Homo sapiens: one gene and its partner. The protein of the gene in region 1 purifies or fractionates together with the protein of each later gene. This does not show direct contact. Each region holds a gene or a part of one and is shown on either strand. Other genes may lie near its edges.

The links. Proteins that work in one complex are often made in the same cells at the same time.
Region 2: the proteins of TRPC4 (region 1) and MX1 purify together in Homo sapiens (co-immunoprecipitation; one study listed by IntAct). This does not show direct contact.

The regions. Positions count from the first base shown.
Region 1 is NC_000013.11:37,863,208-37,866,862, reverse strand, and holds part of TRPC4 (short transient receptor potential channel 4), read left to right. Parts: intron 1-3,655. UniProt on the Homo sapiens protein: Forms a receptor-activated non-selective calcium permeant cation channel. Acts as a cell-cell contact-dependent endothelial calcium entry channel.
Region 2 is NC_000021.9:41,439,678-41,443,332, forward strand, and holds part of MX1 (interferon-induced GTP-binding protein Mx1), read left to right. Parts: intron 1-16; coding exon 17-171; intron 172-1,209; coding exon 1,210-1,348; intron 1,349-2,038; coding exon 2,039-2,237; intron 2,238-3,655.

The sequences.
Region 1 (3,655 bases):
ATACCCGCCCCCCCCCACAAAAAATAAACATTAAAACTGGTTCGACTCAACCCAAATTTAATTGGGAATTTGTTTCTATCTAGTTATAATGAAGAGTTGATTTAGAACTATCTCACTACTCATGTTTTCTATTTCTCACCCTTCCAGAGGCATTGACCCCGCAATATTTTAAGAGATTTGAGAATATTTTGATCAGGGATATAATATCATGGCTGTGTCTTTTTAATCAGCACAAATATAGACCTAATTTTTGAGAACATTAGTATTACCAAAATAACTTTATGATGCAAAAAATGCATTTAGGGAAAGACACCATTTGTTTGGGAAACTGAAAATTAAAGGCATGCGCATTGAAAATGTATTAATTCAAAACCTTGTGGTTTCATGAACTATTTAGCAAATTAAGTGCTGTATTTAAATGTTTAAAAAATATAAGTGACCCTCCTGAAAGTTGTTTAATTTTAATAGAATAAGAAAGAAATAGTTTCAGAACTTGATCTACTATTGTAACTAAACTGTATGTAATATCCTATTAATATTAGTGTATGTTTTATCTCTCTTTTTAAAAATATAGCAGTGTCATAGAATAATGACTTCTTGAGAGACACTAAGTGACACATGGACACAGTGTTACATATAAAATTAGAAATGTTAATTAAAACATTAATTTAAAAATATGCCTTGATAGCTTTATCTAGCACACTGCATTCTTTTTGAGAAATGACAGTGAAATTAAATGAATCAGATATTCATTAATTATATTCTGTCTGTGGTTTGCTGTTAGATTTTGAAATATGTTGAAAAATTACTTCAAGCAAATACTATCAAGAGTTCAAATTTACCTGAAACAGGACCTATTGTGAAAAAAGAAAAGAGGGAAAATGGGCCAATATTTATGAGAATTTAATGTACACTTGGCACTATGTGAGAAACTTTGAAAAAGAAAGCTATTTTTCATTGTTATCTTAACATCTACCTTGAAACTGAAGTATTATCACATTTTAACAACCTGAGAAAGATGAAATTTATGAAAATCACAAAATTGCTTTGTGGGAAGGCAGGATTTGAAGTATATCAAATTTTACTATCAGGTACTACGTCTACCTGATGGTAAAGACTACACTCTTTTTACTTAATTCCTGTGGTTTCTAAAATACAATCAATAATCTTTTAACAAGTTTCATAAATTCATTTTTTCAGCTATTTGTTTCTTGAATTTTAAAAATATTATAACATTGGAATATAAACAACTGTCCCCATCATGGGGATAGAATTTGAAACAATAGTCTGTTAAAGTTCCATCAGTTTTGAAGCAGAGCAAGAGATAAGCTACTTATCTTGAGCAGGATGATCTCAAAATGACTTCCTTTCTTATTCTTAAATATAAATCTAATACATGTAAAAAGAAAAAAAAAGTTTGTTTTTATGAACAAAGTTCAAGATTATAATTTTTTAGAAATACTCATGAGCTTATAATTTATAAATAAAAAGTTATCATGCTAACCTTTTGACCATCTGTAAGCTGGTAATAAAATGTCTTTATTAAAAAAAAGGTCATGCTAGGCCATGTTAGGTTTATACTACATCTTATCAATGTTATGTAAAATTTCTAGACAAGTGTATTTGTTTTAGTTTTCCCTGAAATTTTAATTTTCCAATTATTTTAATGTCCCTTGGTATTTGAGAGGAGCTCTCATTCATGCATCCCAAAAGACATCGATTAGCTGAATTTGTCATGATATTTACTAAACATATATATGCATTTGCGCTGACAGGATTGTGTCCAAAACCTATTGACATTGAGGTTGAAGGAATACTTTCTTTGAATATATGTACTACCATTACAAAAGTTATCACTAAAATCTTATCCATTCAGTAGATATTTGTTGAATATTAGTAAATGAATAATTGAATCAATAGATGAATGGCACATGCGTAAGCTTTTCATTTTTGTTGCATTTCCTGGCAAAGCTCCCTCTGTCTAGAATAACTTCTACCTTTTTGTTTCTGTAAAAATATTCTGCAGGCACTAAAGCCTAGTTAGTGCCTAGTTAGTGCCTAGTTTGTGCCTAGTTAAATCCAATATGACCGTATCCTTGAAAGTTTCCTTCATTTCTCCAGATGTCCCAAGTATAAATACAAGCAAAGAGCTTGTTATATTCTGTCTTGCAGGCTGGCAAAGATCTGTCTCCAGATCTAGACAGTAAACTTTTTAAAGAAAACCGGAGGATTTTCAAAACTGTGTGAGTTTGTAACTGAATTAGAGTGCCATAAATACTATGCTTCATAATTGACATAATTAATGTATTTTATACTTTCATAATATTGTACTTGGCTAAACTTTTAGCATATTTTTATATAATGATGCCAATTGTGATAATGTTGCACTTATACAATATATTGAGTACCATATTATTTCTTATGTTACAAAAATAATTTACCCACCATTATTCAATAAACTTAACTTTCAGTCAGCTACTTACTCTATAATGCTCATTTTTATAGGATTTATATAACCAGTTATTAATGTGTTTCAGTTTAAGTGGTACTGTGCCAGAATTCTTAAAGGAGGGCTTTTGTTCCATTACACTATGAGAGGAGTAGTTAGAGTTGAAAGAGGACAGATACAAGTGTTTCTCAGGAATGCTTACTGAACTAAAGAAAGCCAGAGACTTCTTTGGAGTGATATTTGGAAAGTAAGTTGAGAGTGCATTTCAAAGACTTGACAATACATGATGTTCCATTGTGGGTGGCATGAGGGATTTGTTTTAAATTATTTTCATTCTACTTCATTGACAATAGAGTTTTTACAAATCAGATTATGAAAAGTGTTCAGATACTCTGCCACATTTTTAATGCATTTCATCTCTAAATGATAGTGGAGAAGTAACACAATTTGCATACCGGGATCATAGTTCATAACACATTGTAATTTTTATTTTCACAGAATTAGTATAATAGTGCTGACTATGTGCTTTTTGAATAGATGAGTGAAATAAATGAATGCATAGATGATTGAATTGGTCTGTCATCAGCTGCTATGCTCAACCTCTTTAACACACTGTTCATTCAAGTAGCTGATCATACACCAATATGAATCTCCAAAAACACAATGGAGGGATGAGAGGACAGGCATAGTGTACATGGAGTGAAGAACAGAGAATCTATCATGATTTATGTACAATCATCTCCATCATTTATGACAGCATGAGTTTCTTTTTATGTAAAGATCCCTTTCATTCTAAGGTAAAGTGAAGCTGCATGCCCTGAATCACACTGAGGTCACACTTTAAATGAATGCTCTTTTGTGGTAGTTGCAGTTTGACAAGCAGAGTTGGGTCTTCTTTAATTTTATCTAGAGCCCAATATGTACAGGAATATAATATATATGTGTATACAACATACATATAAGTATATATGTGTAAACACACAAACATATATGTAATAACAGTAAATAACAAGTAATAAAGAGTGGGAGACTGCTTGAGTGTGAGACACAAATTATTATCAAATAGTATAGAGTAACCCATAAAGGACCACAGTATTTGTTTTTGAATATGTCAGTGTCCCTATAAAATGGTTAGATTTGCAATGAATGACTTGGAAGATCATCTTATTTAAAAGTATGTTTGTAAGTAGGCCCCCTAAATCTTTC
Region 2 (3,655 bases), on another chromosome or scaffold:
CCTGTCTCTTTTCTAGCCCAGAATGCCATCGCCGGGGAAGGAATGGGAATCAGTCATGAGCTAATCACCCTGGAGATCAGCTCCCGAGATGTCCCGGATCTGACTCTAATAGACCTTCCTGGCATAACCAGAGTGGCTGTGGGCAATCAGCCTGCTGACATTGGGTATAAGGTCAGACTTCAGACCCATTCTGACCTTGGCCGTGGCGTGGGGATGGGGGAGTGGAGGGGTGGGAGGAGAAAGAGGGTACTGTATTAGAGTAACCGTGAGTCCAGAGCTGAGTTTTGGAGTTAGTATTTGGAGGTGTGAGTGGGGAATTTAGAGAGCCCGTTGGTCACAGTCTGTTCTGTCAAGTTGAATGGAAGCTTCTTTGGAGAAAGTGAGGCCAGTGGGCACAGTTGGAAATGTGTTCTGTGTATTTGTTTTATGTTTTATGCAATGACTTGTTTTTGGTTATATACATTTTGCAGCATATCTAAAGTGCTGTGTATTAGGAAGGGGTCTTATGTGGGAAGAGAGCATTAAAAATAAGTATAATGGGCCACACACAGTGGCTCAGTCCTATAATCCCAGCACTTTGGGAGGCTGAGGCAGGAGGATTCCTTGAGCCCAAGAGTTTGACAGAAACCTGAGCAACATAGTGAGACCCCCTTCTCTATAAAAGAAAGGTTAAAAAATTAGCCAGGTATGGTGGCGTGCACCTGTCAGCTACTAGGAGGATTGCTTGAACCAGGGAGGCTGTGATGAGCCGTGATTGTGCCACTGCACTCCAGCCTGGGCAACAGAGCAAGAATCTGTCTCAAAACAAAAAACAAAACAAAACAAGCAAGAAAGAAATAGGTATAATGATATTTTAGTATCAGTGAATCTCACTTTACAGATTAAAGATTTAGGGGTGAAGTGGGGTTTTTTGGCCACCATTTTTCATTGTGACCATCAGATCTGAGGTCTTAGGGGTTAATTATCTGAAACTTCATGGTTTTCCCTGAGCCTATAGCTCTGCTTCTGCCACAGATAATTTATTTTCTCATAATTCCAGCTTGGTACCTCCAGGGTTGTGTTTGTGGGTTCATTTCTCCAAAGTTACTTCTTTTGGGGGAAATACCCCTGGGACTCTTAGGGCCTAAAGCAAGTGCAAGGTCAGGACTTGTCTCACCTCTCACTTGCCTTTGCCATACTCACGAGTCACCTCCTCTCATTTCCTTACAGATCAAGACACTCATCAAGAAGTACATCCAGAGGCAGGAGACAATCAGCCTGGTGGTGGTCCCCAGTAATGTGGACATCGCCACCACAGAGGCTCTCAGCATGGCCCAGGAGGTGGACCCCGAGGGAGACAGGACCATCGGTGAGAGTGGGGGAGCCCCACTGTGCTCAGTGAGAATGGGGGAGCCCGCCTGTGCTCGGTGAGAATGGGGGAGCCCACCTGTGCTCGGTGAGAATGGGGGAGCCCGCCTGTGCTCGGTGAGAATGGGGGAGCCCGCCTGTGCTCGGTGGTCTGCCAGTGGGCAAGCGTCCCTCCAGTCTCCATGGGCTTTGCTCAGTGGGGACCTGCCTCCACTAAGACCTGCTAAGGGAGCAGGTTTGGTGCCCACCAAGGCCAAGTGAAATGAGCTGCTTTTGACTCTCACTGGCTAGGTTGCCTTGTAAGCCTTATCTACTTGCTCAGAAAGGCACAGTGGGCTCGGAAGCAGGTCAAACTCAGGAGGCACATGGTACTCATTAAGAATGCATTTGAGATGGGATGTCCATAACTCAAGGGATAAACAAAACGTGGCGTGTTCTACAGTGGACCCGGGTGAAGGAGCTTGGGGAGAGCCACATGCTGTTCTGGGAGGCATCCCTGCCTTCACGCGGCTTGTCGTGGAGTTCTTTTCTGGAGCGGGGCTCCACTGCCCCCATGGTTCTGCAGGGGCTATGGCCTGTCCTCAAGCAAGGATGGGAGGAAACCCTGGGAGGCCGGGGGCGTGAGCAGTTGTTCGTTCACCTCTGCCTCGTGACTGAGCACGTTCTCTCCCCAAATACATCTGGCTCGCAGGAATCTTGACGAAGCCTGATCTGGTGGACAAAGGAACTGAAGACAAGGTTGTGGACGTGGTGCGGAACCTCGTGTTCCACCTGAAGAAGGGTTACATGATTGTCAAGTGCCGGGGCCAGCAGGAGATCCAGGACCAGCTGAGCCTGTCCGAAGCCCTGCAGAGAGAGAAGATCTTCTTTGAGAACCACCCATATTTCAGGTGCGCTTGCCTGGGTTTCATCATGGATCAGTCCAAGCCCAGGATGTCAGGCCTTCCAGGGGACAGTGGCAGCCGTCCCACAGATGTGTGGAGTGTGTGTGTGTGTGTGTGCGTGTGTGTGTGTGCGCGTGTGTGTGTGACTATGCTTGTTCCCCAACAAGGACTATGGAATTCACCTAGAAGAATAGGAAGGGGATTACAAAATACTGCCAAGAAAAAAAAAACTAAAAACCAATCAAAATAGGGAGAGAACAATGTACAATAATTTACGTAGCATGGTGCTGGAACCATATTTTATAAAAACATAAATAGAAGAGAATAGGAAAAAAGTAGAAAGCCCAGAAATAGACCTAGATATATATATTTGACACATGATAAATGCAGCATTTCAAATCAAATAGTGGACTATATCAGCTTGAGTATCTATTAGTGGTGTTAGGATAATTAATATTTGGGAAAAAACTAAAATACTGCCCTTACTTATCTCATTATACCAAAATAGTTAAAGTTTAAAGTTAAATATTAAGAGGAAGCAATAAGCATCTCAGAAGAAAGGTAGGTGAATAGTTTATAAGATTTTTCTATCCCTCCTACCAAAAGTGACATTTTTTAAAAGGAAAAGACTGACAAATTGGTAAGATTTAAAATGATGAGACTATGTAGAGTTGTAAACATTCTTACATTCAGTTCTCCCAGAAGCCTACAGAGAGCCATTACTCAGAATTCCAGGAATATCAAATGGAAACTTACATCCTGTTCTGCACATTCACAATTGCCAGAAGATGAGATGATTCAGTGTCCATTGATGGATGGATGCAGAAAGCAATGTGGTCTGTACAAAAACATGGAATACTTTCAGCCTTAGAAAGGAAAGACATTCTGACACATGCTACAACATGGATGAAGCTTGGGAACATTCTACTAAGTGAAAGAACCCAGTCGTAAGAGGACGGATACTGTCTGATTCCACTTAGCTGAGGTCCCTGGAGTAGTCAGATTCATAGAGACAGAAAGAATGATGGGCACCAGGGGCTGGGAGAGAGAGAATGGGCAGGTAGTGTTTAATGGGGCCATTGTTTCAGTTTGGGAATATGAAAAGTTCTGAAGACAGACAGTGGTGATGGTTGCATAATAGTGTGAATGTACTTAATGCCACTCAAGTGTACTCTTAAAGATGGTTAAATGGTCAATTTTATATGTAGTTTACCACAATTTAGAAAAATTGACAGAGAAACTGAAGCTTAGGTATGAGTATACTCACAAAAAGGCACAGAAACTCATGCTTCACTGCTGCCTTTATCCTAAAATGTCCTATAAAATGTGGGAAACCCTGTAATAACTCACTCTGTGAGCACAAATTTGGATCGAGTGAGAAGATACTTGACTTCCTTCCTCCAGGCAGCCCATGGTTTAAGTTT